Linked DNA regions of Homo sapiens: region 2 is linked to region 1. A link means that fine-mapping ties the variant in region 1 to the expression of a gene that starts in the linked region. Tissue or cell type: blood mononuclear cells. Region 1 holds a variant in brackets; the other region holds the start of a gene. All regions are shown on one strand. Distances are from middle to middle.

Region 1 (10,016 bases):
CAGATCAATTCATCAGGATCCCTGGAGTGGGGTCTGAGCATCGGTAGACTCGCGATTCCAATGAGCTGCTGCGGTTGGGAACCTCAGTTGGGGAGGAATCATGGATGGAAATAAACACCGGAAGCCTGACCCACTGCTGCAGAGACGGAGTGGCAGAAAGGAGGGCTTCTGTTGCAGCTCTAAAAATAAGTCCTAGGAAATTCAAAAGCCCCTGGGAAAAGACACACAGCTGCCCCTGGCCCTCTGGGGGCACAGGCGTCTGAGGCATTGGCAGCTGCTTTGGATCAGGAATATTCCACGGTGACTCTGCAGCGGAGACACCTCGGGTCTGAGGCCCCTTGGAGGGCCCCGGGAATTCCTGAGCAGCTGCTGAGACTTCACGGCCCAGAGCTGTAAGCCTCCTGCAGATCTCGCTGAGGAAGGAGAAGCTTAGAGGGCAAAGCAGGACACCACCGGAACTGCAGAGAATCAAGCATGCAGCTCTGAGAAGGGCCTGCCGGAGGAGTGGGAAACTCATCAAAATTAAGAGCCTTTGAATAAGCAGGATGAGCACAAGGTGGGGGAGGGGCGGGGAGCCCTAGGTAAGGGCTCCAGGAATGACTTCACTGCAAATGTTAAGTGACCCAAGAAGACAACTGTCCCCCCGCTGCTCTCAGAGGAAGCTGTGAGCCTGGGTGGATACGGACGGCAGGGGACACAGTTTGCCTCTCATTGGGCAATTTCCACCAGTGGAGTTTCAATTCCTGGGTCGTGGACTCTCGTCTCCTGGTGAAGTGCAACATCATTCCTCTTGTCGCCGGTGCGTTGTGCCTGCATCTTTGCTCCAGCTAAGCCAGCTCCTCTAGGCCTCTGGCTGCCCACCGCAGTGGGCTCTGGACTGGACTCTGGACCATGCGTTGCTGGGTTTGCTGCTGTGATGATGGAGGTGCTGCTTTTGTCTGTCTGATGTTTATACTTTGTGGGTGTGGAGTGTGCTAGGAACATCTCATATGTGCCAGGAACTGGCTCTTTGGAAAAGTCAGTCCAGGTTAGAAACATAGACTGTGGCCGGGCATAGTGGCTCACGCCTATAATCCCAGCACTTTGGGAAGCCAAGGTGGGCAGATCTCTTGACTTGAGGTCAGGAGTTCGAGACCGGCCTGGCCAACATTGTGAAACCCCATCTCTACTAAAAATACAAAAATTAGCCAGGCATGGTGGTGCATGCCTGTAGTTCCAGCTATCCGGGAGGCTGAGGCACGGGAATTGCTTGAACCCTGGAGACAGAGGTTGCAGTGAGCCAAGATCACGCCACTGCACTCCAGGACTGTATCAAGTTCACTCCAAAAGTGGAGAAGAGCCATCTGGACTGCAACTGCCACCAAGGGAAGCCACACTTCAGCCAAGTGGGGCCCTCCACCTAAGGCCGAGCATGGTAAGACACTGCAGAGGAAGGGGTCTTGACTTGAATTCATCTGGGCTTTGCCTTAGAGGGAGAAAGGTATTGCATTTTTGGACTTCAATCATGGGGGCTCCTGTTTACCTTGCAGCTGTCTTATGTTGCAGGTTTTGATGTGGTTCTCAATGTTCAAACCCCACTGGGAGTTATATTACACAGTGTCGTTTGACCTAATTTAAGATAGGAAATGGAATAAGAAATGAATTTTCTTCCTAGGTGTCACACAGCTGTAGCCGTTAGGAATGTCTCTGGATGCAATGAATAGAAAATCTACATATCAGAGGCTGAAGCAATAAGAGGCAGCAGCGTGGGTATGGGCTATTCTGGGTTTGGGGAAATAGTTCAGAGATGTTATCCGGGAGCCAAGTCCACTTTTATTGGCCTTTTATTGGGAAGAAAGGAGTGTTCCTCTCATCAAGAAGTAAAGTGTTTCCCAGAAGCACCCCCTCCTCCTCACATTTCTTCACATCTCTTTGGCTAGAACCGCATCACACGGCCACCCCCAGTTGCAACAGAGACTGGGAAGGTGGAGTATCAGATGGAAATCCTATTGTCAGGACCCAGGCTGAGCATGCTGCCTCCCCACACGAAACCAGACTTCTGTTAGCAAGAAAGATACAAGATCGCCGGCCACTATGGTTATTGACATGTTGTGCTGTCATCTTCCAAAAACTGACGAGGGCCAGGTGCGGTGGCACACACCTGTAATCCCAACATCCTGGAGGCTGAGGCAAGAGGATCACTTGAGGCCAGGACTTTGAGACTAGCTTGGGCAACATAGCGAGACCCCCATCTCTACAAAAAATAAAAATAAAAATTTTAATAAAAAAAATAGCCGAGCATAGTGTCATGCACCTGTAGTCCTAGCTACTTAGGCGGCTGAGGCTGAGGAACTCCTGAGCCTGGAGTTCAAGGCTGCAGTGAGCTGATTGCTTCACAGCACTCCCTCCTAGGTGACACAGCGAGACCTAGTCTCTTTAAAAAACAACAACAAAAAATTACAAAGAATTCAACAATTTAAAAGTACAGCCCAAGGCAACCTACAGAATTGGAAGAAATATTTGCAAATCATGTATCTTATAAGAGATTAATATCCAGAATATAGAAATAACTCCTGCAACTCAACGACAACACAAAAATCCAGTTAGAAAGTGTGCAAAGGGAGCTAGGCGTGGTAGCTCACACCTGTAATCCTAGCACTTTGGGAGGCTGAAGCGAGAGGATCACCTGAGGTCAGCAGTTTGAGACAAGCCTGGCCAACATGACAAAACCCTGTCTCTACTAAAAATACAAAAAAATTAGCTGTGTGTGGTGGCAGGCGCCTGTAATCCCAATTACTTGGGAGGCTGAGGCAGGAGAATCTCCTGAACCCAGTGGGGGGAGGTTGCCATGAGCCGAGATCATGCCACTTCACTCCAGCCTGGGCTAAAGAGCGAAGCTCCATAAAAAAAAAAAAAAAAAGAAAGAAAGTGTGCAAAGGACTTAAATAAAAATTTATCCTGGCTGGGCACAGCCAGGCACAACTACTCAGAAGGCCGAAGCAAAAGAATCACTTGAACCCTGGAGGCAGAGGTTGCAGTGAGCCAAGACTGTGTCACTGCACTCCAGCCTGGGCAACAGAGCAAGACCCTGTCTCTAAAAAAAAGAGAGAGGCCAGACGCGGTGGCTCATGCCTGTAATCCCAGCACTTTGGGAGGCCAAGGCAGGTGGATCACCTGAGGTCAGGAGTTCGAGAACAGCCTGACCAACACGGTGAAACCCCATCTCTACTAAAAATATAAAAATTAGCCAGGCGTGATGGCGCATGCCTGTAATCCCAACTACTGGGGAGGCTGAGGCAGGAGAATGACTTGAACCCAGGAGGTGGAGGTTGCAGTGAGCCGAGATCAGGCCACTGCGCTCCAGCCTGGGCGGCAGAGAGAGACTCTGTCTCAAAAAAAAAAAAAAAAAAAAGAATTAGGGACAGTGTCAAGTCCGTCCATTCTGGCCACAGTGTCCAACTTCAGGGACAGTAGGTGGCTTTTGGGGCACAGAGCCAGAGGCTGCAGTGGGGCCAGGCGTGGCACCCAGTGTTCAATGGTGGCAGCGGCCGATCGCTCCCGTGGCCTGACTTTGCCTCGGGTTCTGGGAGCTGCACCCTGTTTCTGTGGTTCTCCAGCCTTCCTGGTACCTCCTGAATCCCTTCCAGCCCCCATGGATAAAGTTAAGTGCCTCCCTCTCATGTGCTCCCTGGAACCACCTCCCTCGCGGCCTCATCAGCTAAGGTCTTTGTCCCCACACCACATGAGCACCCACTGAGGGCAGGGACAAAGCTTCATCTTGTCCACTTCTCTATCCCTGGGCCCAGCTCCAGCCTTACATGTAGAGAAAGTTCTCGTTGTGAGTGAATGCATGGCTCTTTGGAAACAGAAACAGAACCAGGAAAGGATTGACCCAAAGTCCGCTGCAGAGATTGAGCTCCCCCAGCCCCAACAGGGCCCCCCGCTACAGAGGCCTGGGGAACAACCCCAGAAGGGAAATCAGGAACCAGCCCGGGAATGGAATGTCCTAGATCTACCTGAGATCAGGACCCTCCTCCCCTTCCCAGCATGCAGTGACCTGCAAGAGTCACACAGGAGGGAGTCCTGGGACCATTCTCCCTCCTAGAAAAAAACCCTAAAAGACAAAGCTGTAGCAACTGCCTTAGAAGGACAGGCTGAGTGGCCGGGCGCGGTGGCTCATGCCTGTAATCCCAGCACTTTGGGAGGCCGAGGCAGGCAGATCACCTGAGGTCGGGAGTTCAAGACCAGCCTGACCAACATGGAGAAACCCCGTCTCTACTAAAAATACAAAAATTAGCTGGGCGTGGTAGCAGGTGCCTGTAATCCCAGCTATTTGGGAGGCTGAGGCAGGAGAATCGCTTGAACCTGGGAGGCGGAGGTTGCAGTGAGGGGAGATCACAGCACTGCACTCTCCAGAGCCTGGGCAATAGAACGAGACTCCGTCTCAAGGAAAAAAAAAAAAAAAACAGGCTGAGCTCCCTGGCTTGTGGGGAGAGAGCAAGGGGCCTGCCCAGAGCTGAGTGATCTGGGATGATGGGTGCAAGGGAAGATGACCTCCCTGCAAATTAATGAGGCAGCTTTCTGTTCATAAACCACCTGCCATGACAAGCCTGGCCTGTTCCCAAGACAATGTCCAGGCTCAGAGCAAGCCAGATCCAGAACAGTTTCCAAACTACATTCCAGGGAACCCCAGTGCTCCACAGGCATTGCTGGGTGTGCCATGGGGAGCCTTGAATTAAACACATATAACAATGCAGGACTCCTCAGAGCATTTAATGCGCTGAGGCCCTTGATGACTTTCCAAGAGGCAGCACAGTACACGGCTGATGACAACATTTTTGCTGAGCATCTATCATAAACTTCCAACCTCCTTGAGCTCCAAGGAACATAGCTTGCAAATGCTGCTGTGGGCAGCACCCCACTACCTGCCACTGAGAAACTGAGGTCCCATCTCTTAAGTCTCACTCCCACCCTCTGCTGGGGGCAGTGGGGAGCCAACCTGTCCTCCCCTTGCGGGGCTCTGCACACATTGCACACGTCTCCCTCTGGGGAAAGGGGTGCCAAGGAACTTCTGGGCCAGCTGAGCCAAAATACAGACTTGGAGTGTGAACTGGCCAAGTCACTGCCTCCTCCCTGAGGGTCCCTCCCTTTGGCACCCGCCACCTTATCTCCAGAGAGGCCACCGTGGCACAGAGCCCCAGGCTCCACAGGTGGCTACTGACCGTCACCCACCTCTGGGCCAAGTCCACTCTCTTTTTGTTTTCTTTTCTTTTCTTTTTTTTTTTTTTTTTTTTTTTTTTTGAGACAGAGTCTTGCTCTGCCCCCCAGGCTGGAGTGCAGTGGTGCAATCGCAGCTCACCGCAACCTCCACCCACTGGGCTCATGTGGTTTTCCTGCCTCAGCCTCCCAAGTAGCTGGGACTACAGGC[G/A]CGGGCCACCACTAAATCTTTGTATTTTTTTAGTAGAGATGGGGTTTCACCATGTTGGCCAGGCTGCTCTCGAACTCCTGACCTCAATTCATCCACCTGCCTCGGCCTCCCTAAATGTTGGGATTACAGGTGTGAGCCACCACACCCGGCCCCAAGTCCACTCTCATTCTTGCCCTGCCCCCTGTGGGCCACAGGACAGCCCTCTGTAGTAACCACTGAAGTCTGGTAAATGAACAACCTCAGCCCCTTGGAAGTCCCAAGAGATCCCAGCAGCTTCCCCTGCCTTGTCACCGCACCTGAAGAATGGTGGTGTGTGGTGGAAGGAGTACAGCCCTGCTCTGGGCCATCGGCTACCTGCATGTCCCCTCTGCTGGAGCCACAGGCCCCTCTGTTGGGCCAGTGTCCACATCCCACACCACAGCCAGGCCAGGCTTCTTTAGAAGCTCCCCATCACTGAGCCAACTTCCTCTGCCAGTTACACATATCACCCAGATGGGGTGATTTCTTACTGCAGAACACTTTGTTAATTGACACACCATTGAACTGAGCTGATGACTCCCGTGACTTGGTATCCTTAGTCCCTGATATGTTTTGGCTGTGTCCCCACCCAAATCTCATCTTGAATTGTAGTTTCCATAATCCCCACATGTAGTGGGAGGGACCTGGTGGGAGGTAATTGAATCATGGTGGTGGTTACCCCCATGCTATTCTCATAATAGTGAGTGAGTTCTCATGAGATTTGATGGTTCTATAAGGGGCTTTCCATCTTTGCTCATTCTTCTCTCTCCTGCTGCCCTGTGAAGAAGGACGTGTTTGCTTTCCCTTCTCTCATTATTGTAAGTTTCCTGAGGCCTCCCCAGCTCTGGGAACTGTGAGTCAATTAAACCTTTTTCCTTTGTAAATTACAGAGTCTCAGGTATGTCTTTATTAACAGTATGAGAACAGACTAATACAGTACCAATATCTTTTCCTGATTCACTCATGGCACCTGAAGATGGGAAGAAGTAGCACAGACACAGCTGTGATTTCCGGCCCCTCTATGAGCTGCATGCTGACCCTTGGACATGAAGATTCTCTCTCTTGGCTCTGGAAGGTGCCAAGAAATAAAATGATAAATGGAGATGCAGCCTGGCTAAAGGACAGTTCAGCAGTAGGGTGGACTTCAGGGTTGGTTCGATCCAGCAGCTCAGCTGTGTCCTCAGGACTTGACCTCTTCCCTCTCTCCTCTGTCATCCATAGCCTCAGCTGGACCCTGAGGTATGGTGTCCTTGGGGTGACAGGCTGGCTGCCAGCTGCCATTAGGGCTAGGTGCTTCCTCATCTGTGACCAGCAGAAATGGGTGAGCATCTATCCCAGCATCCCGTGCATTCCAGCAACTGACCTAGAGCAAGCTTGGAGGGACCAGAAAGCACAAGTGGGAGGAACAGGAGCTGGGTAAGCTACACACACTACACAAAATCACAGATCAAAGCCACTTGGTCCTGGGCCAGGCTCAGAGTCCATGCTCAAATATCAGCTACCACTTTTATTCTATGTAAGTCAATATTTGGGCTAATAATGAGCCCATCTTCCCTTGAAGCTAACAGTCTAAGGGATGGTGAGATGACATAAAAAGACACCTGGAGTCTCCACCAATGACTGGCCTCATCATCACATGCAAGACCTCCCCGTACCTTCTCCATCTGCAAAATGAGGGTTAAAATATCTCCTCACCAAACTCACAGGAGAAATCATGCTTTATAAATGCAGAGATGTTGGCCATGAGGCTTCTGATCCTTGCTACAGGCTTTCAGATCTTTATTCTGAGCATTGGCAACAACACGTTTCTGAGAACATCTCCTTTGGCAAATGGTAGGTCAGGCAGAGCTGCTTCAACAGAAGATGTTTTTGCTTTCAAAAAAAAAAAATTGTGTATGCCTTTTAATCCAAATGGCTGAATTGCTGATTCAATCAGCAAACATGGAACAGACTGAGAAAGTGCAGCGTGAGCTCCGAGACAGCAAAGAGGGCCATGAACTTCAAGGATGTTTATGGAGCGATTGCTGAAACCAGCTTTCTGAAGAGGTAAGTCTCCACCAGGCAACAGGGAGGCACGATGCGGGAGTGCCGTGGGATTTACGATGTTCATTAAGTCCATCAGCTTCCAACTCCCTCTGCAACCTGCATGTCCAGCTCGGCTACCCGGGGCACAAACAAGCTCTCCAGCTAAATTACCAAGATTCTTAGTGCCCGGCTGCACACCCACAGAGCACAGCCCACCTCAGCACCTGCCACCCCTGGGGATTCCAGGGCATGTTGAGTGTCTCCCACATGCTCAGGTCCAAGCCCACACCTGGCTTCCACCTGGCCCCATCCTCTCTGCATCCCCTGCTTCTGCTGGCCTCCAGTGTTCCCAGGCTGCCAGTCCTAGAGAGTCAAGGTTAGGCTAGGGTTGGGGCAGAAACACACGACTTTGTGCTGTCCCATAGCTGCACTGTTCTTTGTCACCCAGGCCAGAAGGGACACTGCCTGAGCCCAGAAGTTTGCTACCACTCCCAGAAACAGATCCCCAGGCCCCAGCCCAGCCGTCACTTCGCAGCATCCACCTCCACCATTCTTGCTGCCCCTTCCCCTCCCAGGGCACCTCTGCACCAAACGACTTCATTCTCCTCCTCCAGTTCTGAGAGATAAAACCAGCGGGCATGCCCGTTCCTGCAAACAGGACCAAGCCAACACAAGGCCCCCAGGCCCACAAAAAGCAGGCTCTGTTCCCAGTACAGATGCCTCAGGGACACCCTGCTATATCCATGTCAAACTTCCCTTTATTCATGAATAGAGATGGGAAGTGAGGCATCAGGTGTGCTCAAAAGCTTTGCTATCGGTTAAGAATTGCACCTGGCTACAAGCTACAGAGAATCAAAATAACAGTGGCTATAATAAGGGAGAGGTTAAATTTTGCTCTCATGTGAAAAGAAGTCTAGAGTTAGCCAGCCCAGGGTTGATACAGCAGGTCCACAGCCATCAGTGACCCAGGCTCATTCTATCTTGCTCTCTGCCATCATTAACATGAGGCTCCCATCCTTGGGGCTACCTCATGATCCCAAAATGGCTACTGCAGCTCCAGACATCACATCCACATTTCAGGCAGCAGAGAGTAGGAAGGGGCAAGGCAAAAGGACATGCCTCTCAGCTTAGCCTCCTTTGGAGAGCTTTCCCAGAAACCATACTCAATAACCTTTGCTTACATCTTATAGGCCTATTTCTGAAAGGCTAGGAAATGTGATATTATAAAAAGCCCATTGACACCCAACACTATAGCTTTTGTGTTGCTAAGGAAGCTAAGGAAGACAGGAGTATAGAAAATACCAGCCTTGGCCATACTTTTTTTTTTTTTTTTTTTTTTTTTGAGACAGAGTCTCGCTCTTCCGCCCAGGCTGGAGTGCAGTGGCACGATCTCGGCTCATTGCAACCTCCACCTCCCAAGTTCAAGTGATTCTCCTGCCTCAGCCTCCAGAGTAGCTGGGATTACAGGCATGCACCACTATGCCTGGCTAATTTTTGTATTTTTGGTAGAGACAGGATTACACATGTTAACCAGGCTGGTATGGAACACCTGGCCTCAAGCGATCCGCCCACCTTGGCCTCCCAAAATGCCAGGATTACAGGCATAAGCCACTGCACCTGGCCAGCCATACTTTCTACAGAGCTAATAAAACTAAGAGGATAGGGGCCCAAACTAATCTCCCTCCTGGATGCTTGTGGAGAATAATACAACAGTGATTATGACATCAAAAAAGAGGAGGCAAAGTGTCAGATGTTCTCAGCCCATTCTACACCTGGGATGCAGCACTGTTTTGTGGTGCTTACCTTAACAAATCTGCTATCATATTCCGCTGCTGACAGCCGGTGGTCTACTGGGACCTCAGCGTCTTCATCTCTTGAGTGTTCACACAATTGATTCCTCCTCACCCATCTTTCATTTGTGTTCTTTGCTTTTCTCCTTGAAACAGTTTAATTTCATGGGCTGCATGATGATGTTTTGGACAGTGTGGGACCATATATTCCATGGTGGTCCTATAGGATTATAATGGAGGCTGGGTGTGGTGGCTCACACCTATAGTCCTGGCACTTTGGGAAGCTGAGGTGGCCAGATCACTTCAGGCCAGGAGTTCGATACCAGCCTGGCTAACATGGTTGGGACTTGGGAGGCCAAAGCAGGAGGATTGCTTGAAGCGAGGAGTTTGACTACAGCCTGGGCAACATAGCAAGAGGTTGTCTGTATGCTTTTATTTTTTGAAAGAAAGGAAGGAAGGAAGGAAGGAAGGAAGGAAGGGAGGGAGGGAGGGAGGGAGGGAGGGAGGGAGGGAGGGAGGGAAAGAAAGAAAGAAAGAAAGAAAAGAAAAATAACAAAAATAAAAGATTATAAGGGAGCTGAAAAATTTTTCTCATCTAGTGATGTCATTCATAGCCATCATATCATCATAGTGCAATGTGCCACCTTTTCTATGATTAGATACATTTAGATACGCAAATACCATTCTATTCCAATTGCCTCTGCTACTCAGCACTTCCTGCCATACAGGCTTGTGGTGTGGGAGCAATCAGCTGTACCATCTAGCCTAGCTGTGTT
Region 2 (6,032 bases), 33 kb after region 1:
TGAGGTTGGAGAGCTGAGCTGTGGAAACTTCTTGGAGCTATTCACTTCTGCAGCCCCAGAATGCAGGCCCAGAGCAGGAAGAGGCAGGAAGGAGAAGGATTGAATGGGGCACTGCAGGCAGAGGTGGCCTCCACTCACCTCCTCCGTCAGGAACTCCTTGCTCAGCCCGAAGTCCGTGAGGACAATGTGGCCCTCGGAGTCCAGCAGCACATTCTCCAGTTTCAGGTCTCGGTAAATGATGCCGAGCTGGTAGGAGCAAGAGGGGTGCTGAGGCTTCCTCCCCGAAACCCTCCCCAGCTCCTCCAGCTCCTGGCCCTGCTCAGGATAAGGAGACCCCCCAGAGAAAGTCATCTGCCTGTAGAGGGGGTCTCCAGGGCAGAGCCACTGAATAAGAAAGGCCATTTAAGATATAAAACAAAGAAGGAGGGCCCCGTGGATCAGGCCCCAAGGTCCCAGAGAGAGGAAAGTCTGTGTGAAGAGCTCCATTTCAAGGAGGCCTTAGGAGCCAGGCCGTGAGGTTTCCATTTGAGGAAGTTCTGTGAACGCAGCCCCGAGTTCCCTGAAAGAGGAAAGCCCCTTCGAGGAGGTGCCAGGGGAGGGGACCCCACCAGGCAACGTTGAGGCTTCCTGCAAGGGGTCCAGGGGAAGCAGCTCCAATTCCCACCCAGCTCACCACTGGCCCCCCAGGAAGCCCAGGGGGAAGCCTGAGGCTGCCCTGCGTGCAGATTCCTTCCAAGGCACAGACCCAGTTTCCATAGCAACAGCCTGCGGCCAGGTCTTCACCCACCTTGTGCAGGTGTTCCAGGGCCAGCACGATCTCACCCCCATACACGCGCACCTCAGCCTCCTTGAAGTACTGGCGCTGGTAGAGGTGGGTGAACATCTCCCCGCCGCTCACATAGTCTGGGAGGTGCAGTGGAAGTCAGGAAGCAGCCCCGTCAGGTGGCCTCGCCTGCCCCCAGCCACCCCAACCCCGTTGGGATGTGGTGTGCGCTCACCCAGGATGAGGTGCAGCTTGGCATCCGTCTGGAAAGCGTAGTGCAGCGTGACCAGGAAGGGCGCCTGGCGCACCAGCTCCAGCACCGAGCGCTCGGTGCGCGTGTGCTCTTGCGTCTTGGCGCGCTGCACCAGCGCCGCCTTGCGCAGCACCTTCATGGCGTACAGCTTCCCCGCGTCGTGCCCGCCCGCCTTCCGCACCAGGAACACCTTGCCGTAGGCTGTGGGAGCAGCGAGTGGGTGGAGGGTGGGCTGTGAGCGGGAGATTGGTGCAGGCTTGGGGGGTGGGGGCGATGCCAACCCAGGAGGGTGTGCAAATGAGGCGAAGGAGCTGGGGCAACAGGCAGGTGTGCAAAAAGCTGGCAGAGCCTTCTAAGGAAAGGGTGTGCACACCCCGGGAGGGTGCCCAGCAAAACCAGGGAAAGGATGTGCAAACCAGGCTGGGGAGCATGCATCTCCAGGGGGCCTGCTGCGAGGCATGGGGGCGGGGCATATGCAAACCTGCGAGAGATCAGATGGATGTGAAAAGATGCCAGTGCAAGGAAGGGAGGCAGAGGTGTGCACCTGGCTGGGGAAGGGATGCGCAAACCAGCGCTGGGGCATTTGCAAAATGTGGGAGGGGGATCCCATATTGGAAGAAAGGGAGGAGCTATGCAAATCACTTGAGAGGGGCGCCAGTCCCCCTCCCCAGGGTGTTGGCAAATCCAGGGGGGTATGCACGCACAGGACCGTGGAGGGAGGAGTGATGTCAATGTGGAGTGCCCTGGAAGTGGGCATGCAAACTCTGGCGAGGCAGGGCGGGGCAGGCAAGGCAGGCTGTGCCGGGAAAGGGTGGGGGGCCTGCTCAGTGGCCTGGCCCAGGCCCAAGAGTGAGCAGGCAGGAGGTCAGGGGCACCGCGCCTGGGACGCCTGCCCGGTGGATGGGGGTCCTCACCTCCCGTGCCCAGCACCTTGAGCAGCTCGAAGTTCTCCACGCTCACCTTCTCCTCGTGCCCGGTCAGGTTGGCTGTGGGCACAGGGGGCGAATGAGCCCAGCCGGTCCATGACCCGTCCCGGCCTGCCCCGGGCAGCCGCAGTCAGGCCCCACACCCACCTTCTGTGATCCGCAGCTCCACGGCGCAGCTCTCATCGTCGTCCTCGTCCCCCATGGCGGGCGGGTCGCTGGGGCCCGCGCGGCTCGGGCTCCGGGCGGCGCCGGTTACATGGCGGCTCCGGCCGGGGCGGGCGCTTCCTGGTGCCGCCTCCGGGGCCGAGGCGGGCGCCGGCACCGCCTCCCGGCTCCCCGCCCTGCGCGGCCTGAGTCAGGCGGCTGGAACGTGACAGCGCCGGGCTGCCGGTGGGCGGCCGGCTGGGGCCGCCCTGTCTCCCGAGCCCCCAGGCCAGGCCTCAGGGCCGTGCGCTCCGGGACCTTACTCGACTCTCCCGGGAACTGGAAACACCCCGTGGGAGCCATCCCTGAGCCCGTGGGTAACCTGGAGCCTCTGGGGCATTAGTCCCCAAGCCAGGAATCTGCCCGGGAATGCCGGCTGCAGCCAGTGGCTGGAGGACATTAGGAGTCTGTGCCCCAAGGTGGGGGACGAGGTGCCTGGTGCTGGGCAGGCTGAGAGGGGGTCTGGATCCTGGAAGTCACCCAACTCTCAGGCAGTGGAGCCCACCCCACTCCATCGTCCTGGGGGTGGCCAGCAGGGCCCCTCTCCCCAGAGGACTGGCCTTTGCAAGGAGGAGCCTCATCACCAAGAGGGGGCTGGAGCCCGGCCTGGGACCCCATGGCAAGGAGAGGAGTGGCCAGTTTTCTGACCAGCTTTCTGTCGGGGGTGCCTGCAGAAGCACTTCAGCCCCCAGTCACCGTGCAGAGCCCACCAGGTGCCATGCGCACCTCACGTGTTCTGCTCCTGTTGTCTCCTAGCCTGGTGCAGTACCCAGCTTAGAGCCCTGAGCAGGCCTCAAGAAGAGATGTCAGTGCCACACGGGGCTGCCCCCTCTCCCCATGAGGCCCAGGGCCCCTGCTGACTGGTCCTCCTGAGCCCCTGCTCCGTCTTCTTCCTGCCTTTCCCTTCCTGACCACCAATGGGGCCACCTAGCAGAGTGGGACAGCCATGAGGCCCCACACCCTGAGGCCGGTGGGAGGGGCTCTCAGCTCCTCTGCCAGCTGGAGAGGCCAGGGTGTCCACCCCACGCCCCTGTCCTGTGAAGCCCTGGCTGAGAGGAGGAGGAACTCAAGCTGCTGCAGGTCACACCTGGGAGGCCGGACGGACCGTCCCTCCCAGCTCTGCACCCCCCAAGTTCAGGCTGCCTTATCTCAGCCCTGGGCAGCTCCACCCTCCCCTGGGTGGCCCCAGGTACCCTGACTCACATCCTGCACCCCAGCCGAATTGCCCCGCCTCTCAGGCATCAGGCTAGAGGCCCTGGTCAGAGAGCCAGCGTCCCTCCCACCTCTCCTGGCAACCCCTGGCATTAAGTGATGCCCCGCCAGGCTGAGAACTCCCTGGGGAGGGGGCTCAACCTCAAGGAGGGAGGGGAGATGAGTAGGAGGAGGATGTGAACAGAGAGAAGACAGTGCCCTGGGAGAGGGTGGGGGCGGGGCAACAGGGGCTTCACTGCCCCACACCCCTGAGCCCAGATCTTAGACCCCAATCCCTGCTGGCTACCCAGGATGTCATCCCCTCTCCACCTCACCAGGACATCCGGGCTTTGGCCGGCCGGACTGGCCAAGACCCTGGAGAAAGGCCTGTGCTGCCCTGTCCAGGCAGGGGCCCTCTGCCCACAGACCCCCACCAACCAGCAGGACTGGGGCGGCATGTGTCCTGGTGCCCTGAGGTACCCAGTGCGGCCAACAGACAGAGCAAGACTCAGGAGGCTGCAGTTCAGCTTTATTCTCATGCCCCTCATGTCCAGTTAAGGCTCAAGATCAGCCCAGGCCACAGTCCCCCAGCACTGGGACTCAGCTTCCCACCTGGACAGGGCAGGGGGTTCTCTTGCCAACTCCTGCCAGCCTCCTTCAGCTGGGGGATCCCCCAGAGACCGCTGCCTCAGCGGGAGCCACCTGGAAGAACCAGAACTCCAGCCTGGAGCTGCTCGTGGGGGCCAGCCATCCCCCCTGTCCACACACTCGTCCCAGCTCCATCTCCGGGCCCCGGCGCTGACCGTGGAGGATCTCAGGGCCCAGGCCTCCTTGTCCAAGGACTCCCCTTGGGGTCCCTGGCTCCCTGAGCTCTTGGGCTGCCTGGGGCCTCCGCTGACACTCCAGTGCCGAGAAGGCTGCACTCCCAAGCCTGCTGTTCCCACGGTGTCACTGGCTGAGGGATGGGGTGAGGGGACGTTTCTCCGGTTCCTGTACCTCAGGGCCTAGAGGGAAAGGCTCAGCTGAGATCTGCTTCCCTCAGGAGGACTCCCAGAGTCCCAGGAGGCCCACAGGCTCGAGCACCTTCTGCCCACCCCCGACCTGCCAATACCCCCCGCTTCCAGCTGCACCACGCCTGCTGTTCCCTCAGCGGTTCCCTCTGCCCAGAATGCTGTTCTCAGGTATGTCCACACGACAAACTCTCCCCTCCAAGTCTTTGCTCCAATTTCACATCCTCTCTGAGGCCCACCCCAGCACCCCAGTTACTAAAACTCCAACCAGCCTGCCCAGAGCTCCTGAGCTCCTGACCCCTCCCCTGCTCTCCTTTCTTCCCAGAGCATTAGCGCCTCCTGATGGTCCAGCCGGGTCTAGGGCTGAGCTGCCCAGGGCGGAGCTAAGTAGGTGAGATGGGGTTGGCCTGTGACGTGCTTCAAAGACCTACTATGTTTTTTTGTTTTTTGTTTTTTGTTTTTGAGACAGTCTCACTCTGTCACCAACGCTGGAGTGCAATGGCGTGATCTTGGCTCACTGCACCCTCTGCCTCCCAGGTTCAAGCGATTCTCCTGCCTCAGCCCCCTGAGTAGGTGGGATTACAGGCATGGGACACCATGCCTGGCTAATTTTTGTAGTTTTAGTAGAGACGGGATTTCACCATTTTGGCTAGGCTGGTCTCTAACTTCTGGCCTCAAGTGATCTGCCTGCCTTGGCCTCCGAAACTGCCAAAGACTTACTATGAAAAAAATCACGTCTGGCTGGGTGGCTCACACCTATAATCCCAGCACTTTGGGAGGCTGAAGCGGGCGGATCACCTGAGGTCAGGAGTTCGAGACCAGCCTGACCAACATGGTGAAACCCCGTCTCTACTAAAAAAAATAATAATAATTATACAAAATTAGCCTGGCGTGGTGGCCCATGCCTGTAATCCCAGCTACTTGGGAGGCTGAGCCAGGAGAATCGTTTGAACCTGGGAGGAGGAGGTTGCAGTGAGCCAAAGAGTGAAATTCCATCTCAAAAAAAAAAAAAAAACATCACGTCTAATAGCTCATTCATGATTTTTACACTGGCTACATGCTGAAATGGTAATAGCGTAGGCATATTGAGTTAAATGTTATTAAAATCCATTGTACCTGTCTCTTTTCACTTTTTCTGGTAAGCCTACTGGAAAAGTTAAAATTATCATGTGGTTCACACCATATTTCTAGTGGACAGGGCTGTTGTAGATAATAATTATTTTTAGGCAAATTGTTTACTATCTGCCTCCTCACACCAGAACGTTCCCTGCTGTGTCCCCTGCCAGCACGTCACCTGGCACTTGGTAAAGGATCATTGTCGAATGAAAGAATGGATGAATGAGGTTCTGCCAGGGGCCCCAGGCAGGACAAAGAATACTACTCCTTCCACAGTCCCCCACTCACCCTCTCGGTTGGCATCTGTTTCGTGTTCCTGCAGGGTCTCAGCGGAGTTCTCCCATCCCACACCAGGTCCTGGGAGGCACAAGGCAACCACTGGGCCCAGGGCCAGTGCGGAAGTGGACAGAGCTTGCAGGAGACACAGGGGACAAGAAGGAAGCCTCCTCCCCCAAGGAGCTGGTGGGTCCACAAAGAGTTGGGGGGCTGGCTGGTACAGTGACCCTTGTCCCTCACCTTTGCTGTGGGAGACGGGCGCCCCCAGGGGGCCTGGATGGCGCTGTCGGAAT

The links. PIP is the estimated chance that this variant, and not a neighbour inherited with it, causes the effect.
Region 2: it holds the start of RPS6KA4, and the variant in region 1 is fine-mapped to the expression of RPS6KA4 in blood mononuclear cells (TOPMed, PIP 0.92).

What each region holds. Positions count from the first base shown.
Region 1 is chr11:64,386,603-64,396,618 of GRCh38, reverse strand. It overlaps LOC124902688 (a long non-coding RNA gene), which reads right to left and starts at 9,512. Exons shown (of 2, transcript XR_007062718.1): 1 at 9,254-9,512; 2 at 6,306-6,493. It overlaps LINC02723 (long intergenic non-protein coding RNA 2723), which reads left to right and starts at 788. Exons shown (of 2, transcript XR_007062719.1): 1 at 788-1,414; 2 at 1,655-2,277. The variant G/A (reference allele first, on the strand shown) is at 5,408.
Region 2 is chr11:64,355,348-64,361,379 of GRCh38, reverse strand. It overlaps RPS6KA4 (ribosomal protein S6 kinase A4), which reads right to left and starts at 2,218. Exons shown (of 17, transcript NM_003942.3): 1 at 2,090-2,218; 2 at 1,931-2,002; 3 at 999-1,217; 4 at 788-903; 5 at 139-246. The coding sequence starts at 2,144. CCDC88B (coiled-coil domain containing 88B) reads right to left here. Exons shown (of 27, transcript NM_032251.6): 25 at 5,980-6,032; 26 at 5,752-5,820; 27 at 3,846-4,341. The coding sequence ends at 4,286. RefSeq lists enhancers at 823-932, 1,666-2,193 and a silencer at 1,943-2,432.